Homo sapiens: one gene and its partner. The protein of the gene in region 1 interacts with the protein of each later gene in a pairwise test. Each region holds a gene or a part of one and is shown in the gene's direction. Other genes may lie near its edges.

Region 1 (3,830 bases):
TGGATGCAGTTTTATGTTTCGTAGACTTACGTATAAAAAGCTCTGGAAGAATTTTGTATTTTCTTTGCAGAAATCTGGAATAAATATTTCTATTGATATGTTTATTGGAGATGAGATGAGAATATAACCACTATTGTGACTCAGTTGACCCCATCTGTTTTTATATAAGCACTTTTTTTTTTTTTTGAGACGGAGTCTTGCTCTGTCGCCCAGGCTGGAGTGCAGTGGCGCAATCTCGGCTCACTGCAAGCTCCACCTCCCGGGTTCATGCCATTCTCCTGCCTCAGCCTCCCAAGTAGCTGGGACTACAGGCGCCCGCCACCCCGCCTGCCTAATTTTTTGTATTTTTAGTAGAGACGGGGTTTCACCGTGTTAGCCAGGATGGTCTCGATCTCCTGACCTGGTGATCCGCCTGCCTCTGCCTCCCAAAGTGCAGGGATTACAGGCGTGAGCCACCGCGCCCGGCCTATAAGCACTTTTAATGGTGTAATTCCATTTGCTCTTTACTATAGAAAGCTAAAAGTTTGGCCATGTCAGTTACTACTTCTGGATTTTCTGAGTTCACTCCTCAGTCCATCCTGAGGTCTACTCTTCGATCAACACCTTTAGCATCTCCCTCTCCATCACCTGGAAGGTCTCCTCAACGACTTAAAGAAACTAGAATTTCATTTGTGGAAGAAGATGTCCACCCAAAATGGATTCCTGGGGTAAGTTTGATAATAATTGGGAGAAAAGACATTTTTTAATAAGAATGTATTAGCTCTGACAAGTAAAAAGTTAGATAAATCAAGTTTTTAAATACCACTATAGATTTTTGTATATAATCTTGTAGCTAGTAATGAAATAAGAAAAGGTTAGTTCTGAAAGAAACACTAGGGCCATTGGCTAAGCCAAACCCATCATCTTACAGATAAATAGGACTCGGAAGCACCAAGTAAGTTGGCTGTAGTCAGCTAGATGTATGGTGGTAGAATTGGGAGTAGGATTCAAACCTCCTAATTTTTAGTCCTTCTTTTATCTTTGTTTTTACCTTATATTGTGTTGTTTCTAACTAGTTATATGTTTTTGAGGGTGTGTCTTGAGGTCCACTGTAGGTTAATAGGAACCTTTCAGTGATTATTGGTCATCTAGCCTGTTCTGTGTTGTAGTCTTCTGAAAATACTGGTATATTACCAATTAGGGAAACATTAGCCACCATTAACTTTTACGTACTAGAAGAGAATGGATTTAGAATAAATGAATTTTTATTAAGGAGAGAATTTGGGTAAAAACAACAAAGAAAGTATGGGTATGATTGGGATGGGTAGCTTAGGACTAGACTTAACTGTGATATTTACTAATTTTTTTCTTTTCAAAATCTTACTTTACAGGCTGCAGATGATAGCAAATTAGAAGTATTTACTACACCTAAAAAATGTGCAGTTCCAGTGGAAACTGAATGGCTGAAGAGCAAAGATAGGACCACATCTTTTTTCCTGAACAGCCCTGAAAAGGAGCATCAAGAAATGGATGAGGGGTCACAAAGTTTAGAGAAACTGGATGTGAGCAAAGGAAACAGCAGTGTTTCAATCACATCCGATGAGACTACCTTAGAGTATCAGGATGCACCGTCACCGGAAGACCTTGAAGAGACTGTTTTCACGGCCTCTAAGCCCAAAAGCTCTTCCACTGCACTAACTACTAATGTAACTGAACAAACTGAAAAGGATGGAGATAAAGATGTATTTGCATCAGAAGTAACTCCTTCAGACCTACAGAAACAAATGGGTAAGAACTCATTTCTGAATACTCAAAATTGTTATTAATGTCCCTCAATAAAGTTTATAATAGAATTTTTTCCACCATAAGAAAAGCATCCTAGCCAGGTACTGTGGCTCATGCTAGTTAATCTCAGCACTTTGGGAGGCTGAGGCTGGAGGATTGCTTGAGCCCAGGAGTTCAAGACCAGCCTGGTCAACATAGCGAGGCCCTGTCTTTACAAAATAGAAATTTAAAAATTAGCCAGGCATGGTGGGAGTGTTCAGAAGTTTGAAACCTCAGTGAGTCATGATTGCACCACTGTACTTTAGCCTGCGTGACAGAGCAAGACCCTATCTCAGAAGGAAAGCATGAGAGTTAAATATTATATGCTCACAGTATACTAGTTCCTAGACATAATGCACAGACCTTACTCCTTCAGCTTAGAAAGTGTGGCTTACATTGTTTCATGAGTAGGTACGAGATTTCAGAGGAGAACTTATGTGTTACATTTTTTATTTGGCCGTGAAATTTAGAAAAGAATAGTAACATTTAAGGAAAGAAATGTAAGATGCCATAGTCTGACTTGAAAGTCCTTCCAGTAGCTATGAGAAATAACTTTACAGAACAAATTATTGCAATTTTTATTTATTTAATTTTTGAGACAGAGTCTCACTCTGTTGCCCAGGCTGGAGTGCAGTGGCGTGATCTCGGCTCACTGCAACCTCCGCCCCCCCCCCAACCAGGTTCAAGCAGTTCTTCTGCCTCAGCCTCCAGAGTAGCTGGGACTATAGTCGCCCCCCACCATGACTGGCTAATTTTTGTATTTTTAGTAGAGACGGGGTTTCACCATATTGGCCAGGCTGGTCTCGAACTCCTGACCTCGTGATCTGCCTGCCTCGGACTCCCAGAGTGCTGGGATTACAGGCGTGAGCCACCGCGCCCTGCCAAATTATTGCAATTTTTAACTTATCCACCAGTTTTAAGTTTCTATAATTCTCAGAAATTAAGAATTTCATTCTACTCTCTGTCCTCACCTCCAAAATAATCACTGGACAATGAAAATAAATGTTCAGGCTGGGTAAAGTGGCTCACGCCTGTAATACCAGCACTTCGGGAGCCCAGGAGTTCGAGACCAGCCTAGACAACATAGGGAGACCCCATCTCTACAAAAAATATAAAAAAATTAGCTGGGCACGATAGCATGCACTTGTATTCCTAGCTACTCAGGACACTGAGAGGGGAGGATCGCTTGGACCCAGGAGGTCGAGGTTGGGGATGCAGTGAGCCGTGATTGCGCCACTGAACTCCAGCCCAGGCAAGAGAATGAGACCCTGTCTCAAAAAGAAAAAAAATATTATTTTAGTGATCAAAAAATGTTTTGAGTTCCTGAAGTATGTATTCCTGTTAGCTCCTACTGTGTTTATTCTAGGTGTTGAAGATCAAACAGTGAGTCAAGTAGAAATGGCACCTGCTCCCATGTCACACAGAGCATGGTGGACTATACTGACAAACACTTAGAATCCAGTTTGGTTAACAAGAGGGCCAGGGGAACACTAGTAAATGGGAGAGACTTCACCTAGAATTGGTGGGTCAGAAAACTGAACCTATTTGTATGTTTCTTACCCTACACACGTTTTTAACAAGGTTATTTAAAGGTAACTCCTAACTCTAAAGCTGTAAAACTACATACTTACATAAAAATCTGCATCTTAAGTAGTTTAAGATGAGAGTCCACTGAAGTTTGGACTACGATATCTTTACTTAGTAAGCATGGGCATTATTAATTACTCTAAGAACTTTAGGACCATGCCCATAAATAGCATATGTCTAGAAATTTACACTGCCTTACTTATTTGAGACAGAGTCTTGCTCTGTCGCCCAGGATGGAGTACAGTGGGGCTATTTCAGCTCCTGCAACCTCTTCTCTTGCCTCAGCCTCCCAAGTAGCTGGATTACAGGCATGCGCCACCGGTCCTGGCCTACATTGCTCTTTTGATGTGCCTTGTTCTACTAACATGTTTAAATGGTAGCTGTTAAAAGAATGTTCATAGCATTATCTTCACTGATTATTCTTACAATATTAGGCAGTC
Region 2 (2,696 bases), on another chromosome or scaffold:
TATATATATATATATATATATATATATATATATATATATATATATATTTTTTTTTTTTTTTAACTGAGTTTTGCTCTGTTGCCCAAGCTGGAGTGCAGTGATGCAGCCTCCACTTACTCCCTCACTGCAGCCTCCGCCTCCCGGGTTCAAGTGATTCTCCTGCCTCAGCCTCCTGAGTAGCTGGGATTACAGGCACCTGCCACCACATCCAGCTAATTTTTTAATATTTTTGGTAGAGATGGGGCTTCACCATGTTGGCCAGGCTGGTCTCGGAACTCCTAACCTCAAGTGATCCACCCACCTCGGCCTCCCAAAGTGCTGGGATTACCCATGTGAGCCACCATGCCCGGCCTAGGCATTTCTTTTTATTATCATGCTATGTAAGGTGAGAATCTGAGAGTAAATTGAACTATATGTTAGTGTATTTAACCTTTACTATCTGTAGTTATACAACTAAATATTGACACTCTAGGAATCTCTAGTCTCCTGTTTATAAAATAGGAATTTCATCTTTCTCTATCAAAATAATATGGCATTAGTTAGGATTCAGTGGAGAGAGATAAACAAAATGGTATTGTGTGTGTGCCGGGACTGTGTTAAGTCTCTACAAGCATTTTTTTATTTAATCCTTATAGCAGCCTTATGAAGGAATGTTTTAATTTTCTATTTTTTAACCCATGAGGGAACAGGCTCAGAGGTTATCACAGGCTCATACAGATGGCAAATATAATAGAAGAGCCAGGTCTAAATAGGTGTAGTTAACTACAGCTTCAACCCTCATGAAATCAGCCAGGTGCAATAGCTCACACCTGTAATCCTAGCACTTTCGGAGGTCAAGGTGTGAGGATCGTTTAAACCCAGAGGTTAAGACCAGCCTTGGCAACATAGTGAGAACCTTTATCTACAAAAAATAGAAAAAAATTAGCTGGTCATGGTGGTGCGTGCCTATAGTCCCAGCTATGTGGGAAGCTGAGGTGGGAGGATCACATGAGCCCTGGAGGTTGAGGGTACAGTGAGCTATGATCATGCCACTACACTCCAGCCTGAGTGACAGAGTGAGACCCTGTCTGAAAAAAAAAAGAAAGTTGACATGAAATTATTTTTTATTTTTATTTTTTTATTTTTTCCAAGACGGAGTCTCGCTCTGTCGCCCAGGCTTGAGTGCAGTGGCATGATCTCGGCTCACTGTAACCTCCGCCTCCCGGGTTCAAGCAATTCTTCAGCCTCAGCCTCCCGAGCAGCTGGGACTACATCTGTGCCACCACACCTGGCTAATTTTTGTATTTTTAGTAGAGACGGGGTTTCACCATATTGGCCAGGCTGGTCTCGAACTCCTGACCTTGTGATCCGCCCACCTCGGCCTCCCAAAACGTTGGAATTACAGGCCCAGCCGACATGAATTTTTAAATATATTTAACCGAAAAAAATGACAAGTTTCCCAGTTGGAGAAAAGAGGGTTCCCATTGTGTGCATGCACATGTATACACACAGTTTCTTGTGGTTGGGGGAAAAAATGCATTTTATTTTGCCGGGCACAGTGGCTCACTTTCGGAGGCCAAGGCAGGTGGATCACTTGAGGCCAGGAGTTTGAGACCAGCCTGTCCAACATGGTGAAACCCCATCTCTACTAAAAATAAACATAAAAAAATTAGCTAGGCATGGTGGTGCACATCTGTAGTCCAGCTACTCAAGAGGCTGAGGCACAAGAATTGCTTGAGCCCAGGAGGCGGAGGTTGCAGTGAGCTGAGATTGTGCCACTGCACTCAGCCTGGGCGACAGAACAAGACCATCTCAAAAAAAAAAAAAAAAAGGGTATTTTATTCTACAGAGTCCTATGAAAGCAACTACCCAGAAGAAATGGTACACTTTGCAGACTGTTTTCAAATAAACATTTTCCTTTTAGTTTCCACTGTCCGCAACAGCCCCAATGGTGTGGCTTCCATACTCCTCTATTGATCAGCTTCTCCAAGCTCTGGGAGAGAACAGTGCCAACAGTCACAACATCGCAGTAAGTCAGCCCTTTCATGAGACGTCTTGTGTAAGCCCCTGCACTAGCAGTTACACCTTACAGCTTGATCTTCAGTTCTCCGGGATTAGAAAGGGAAGACAAAAGCCTATTTTTGGCCCTTAACAAACTGCCCAGTCCCTTTATAGATAAGGCAGAGGATCTAAGTAACAGGATCAAGAAAACATAATGAGGAACTGTGTAAGTGTTAATTATACAGAGACAAATGGCAAGCAGTCGGTCCATCCTTTAAAGCTTTTAATTTGGTAGGGCAGACCCTACAAGGTAAACAGGTACTTGAAATACAGCAATGATAGGCCGGGCGCAGTGGCTCACGCCTATAATCCCAGCACTTTGGAAGGCTGAGACGGGCAGATTACCTGAGAGGTCAGGAGTTCGAGATCAGCTTTGCCAACATGGTGAAATTCCATCTCTACTAAATATACCAAAACTAGCCAGGCATGGTGGCGGGCACCTGTAATCCCAGCTACTCGGGAGGCTGAGGCAGGAGAATCGCTTGAACCCAGGAGGCGGAGGTTCCAGTGAGCCAAGATTGCACCACCGCACTCCATCCTAGACAGCAGAGTGAGACTCCATTCCCCCACCCTGAAAAAGAAAGAAATACAGTGTGATAAATTATCACTGTCCTGAGGGAAGTTGGCATATATAACAACATTTCTCAGGAGTCATA

What was found.
Region 2: the proteins of AHCTF1 (region 1) and NUP160 interact in a two-hybrid assay, tested with the Homo sapiens proteins (one study listed by BioGRID).

Annotation. Positions count from the first base shown.
Region 1 is NC_000001.11:246,858,836-246,862,665, reverse strand, and holds part of AHCTF1 (protein ELYS), read left to right. Parts: intron 1-512; coding exon 513-707; intron 708-1,370; coding exon 1,371-1,767; intron 1,768-3,830. UniProt on the Homo sapiens protein: Required for the assembly of a functional nuclear pore complex (NPC) on the surface of chromosomes as nuclei form at the end of mitosis. May initiate NPC assembly by binding to chromatin and recruiting the Nup107-160 subcomplex of the NPC.
Region 2 is NC_000011.10:47,779,655-47,782,350, reverse strand, and holds part of NUP160 (nuclear pore complex protein Nup160), read left to right. Parts: intron 1-1,903; coding exon 1,904-2,008; intron 2,009-2,696. UniProt on the Homo sapiens protein: Functions as a component of the nuclear pore complex (NPC). Involved in poly(A)+ RNA transport.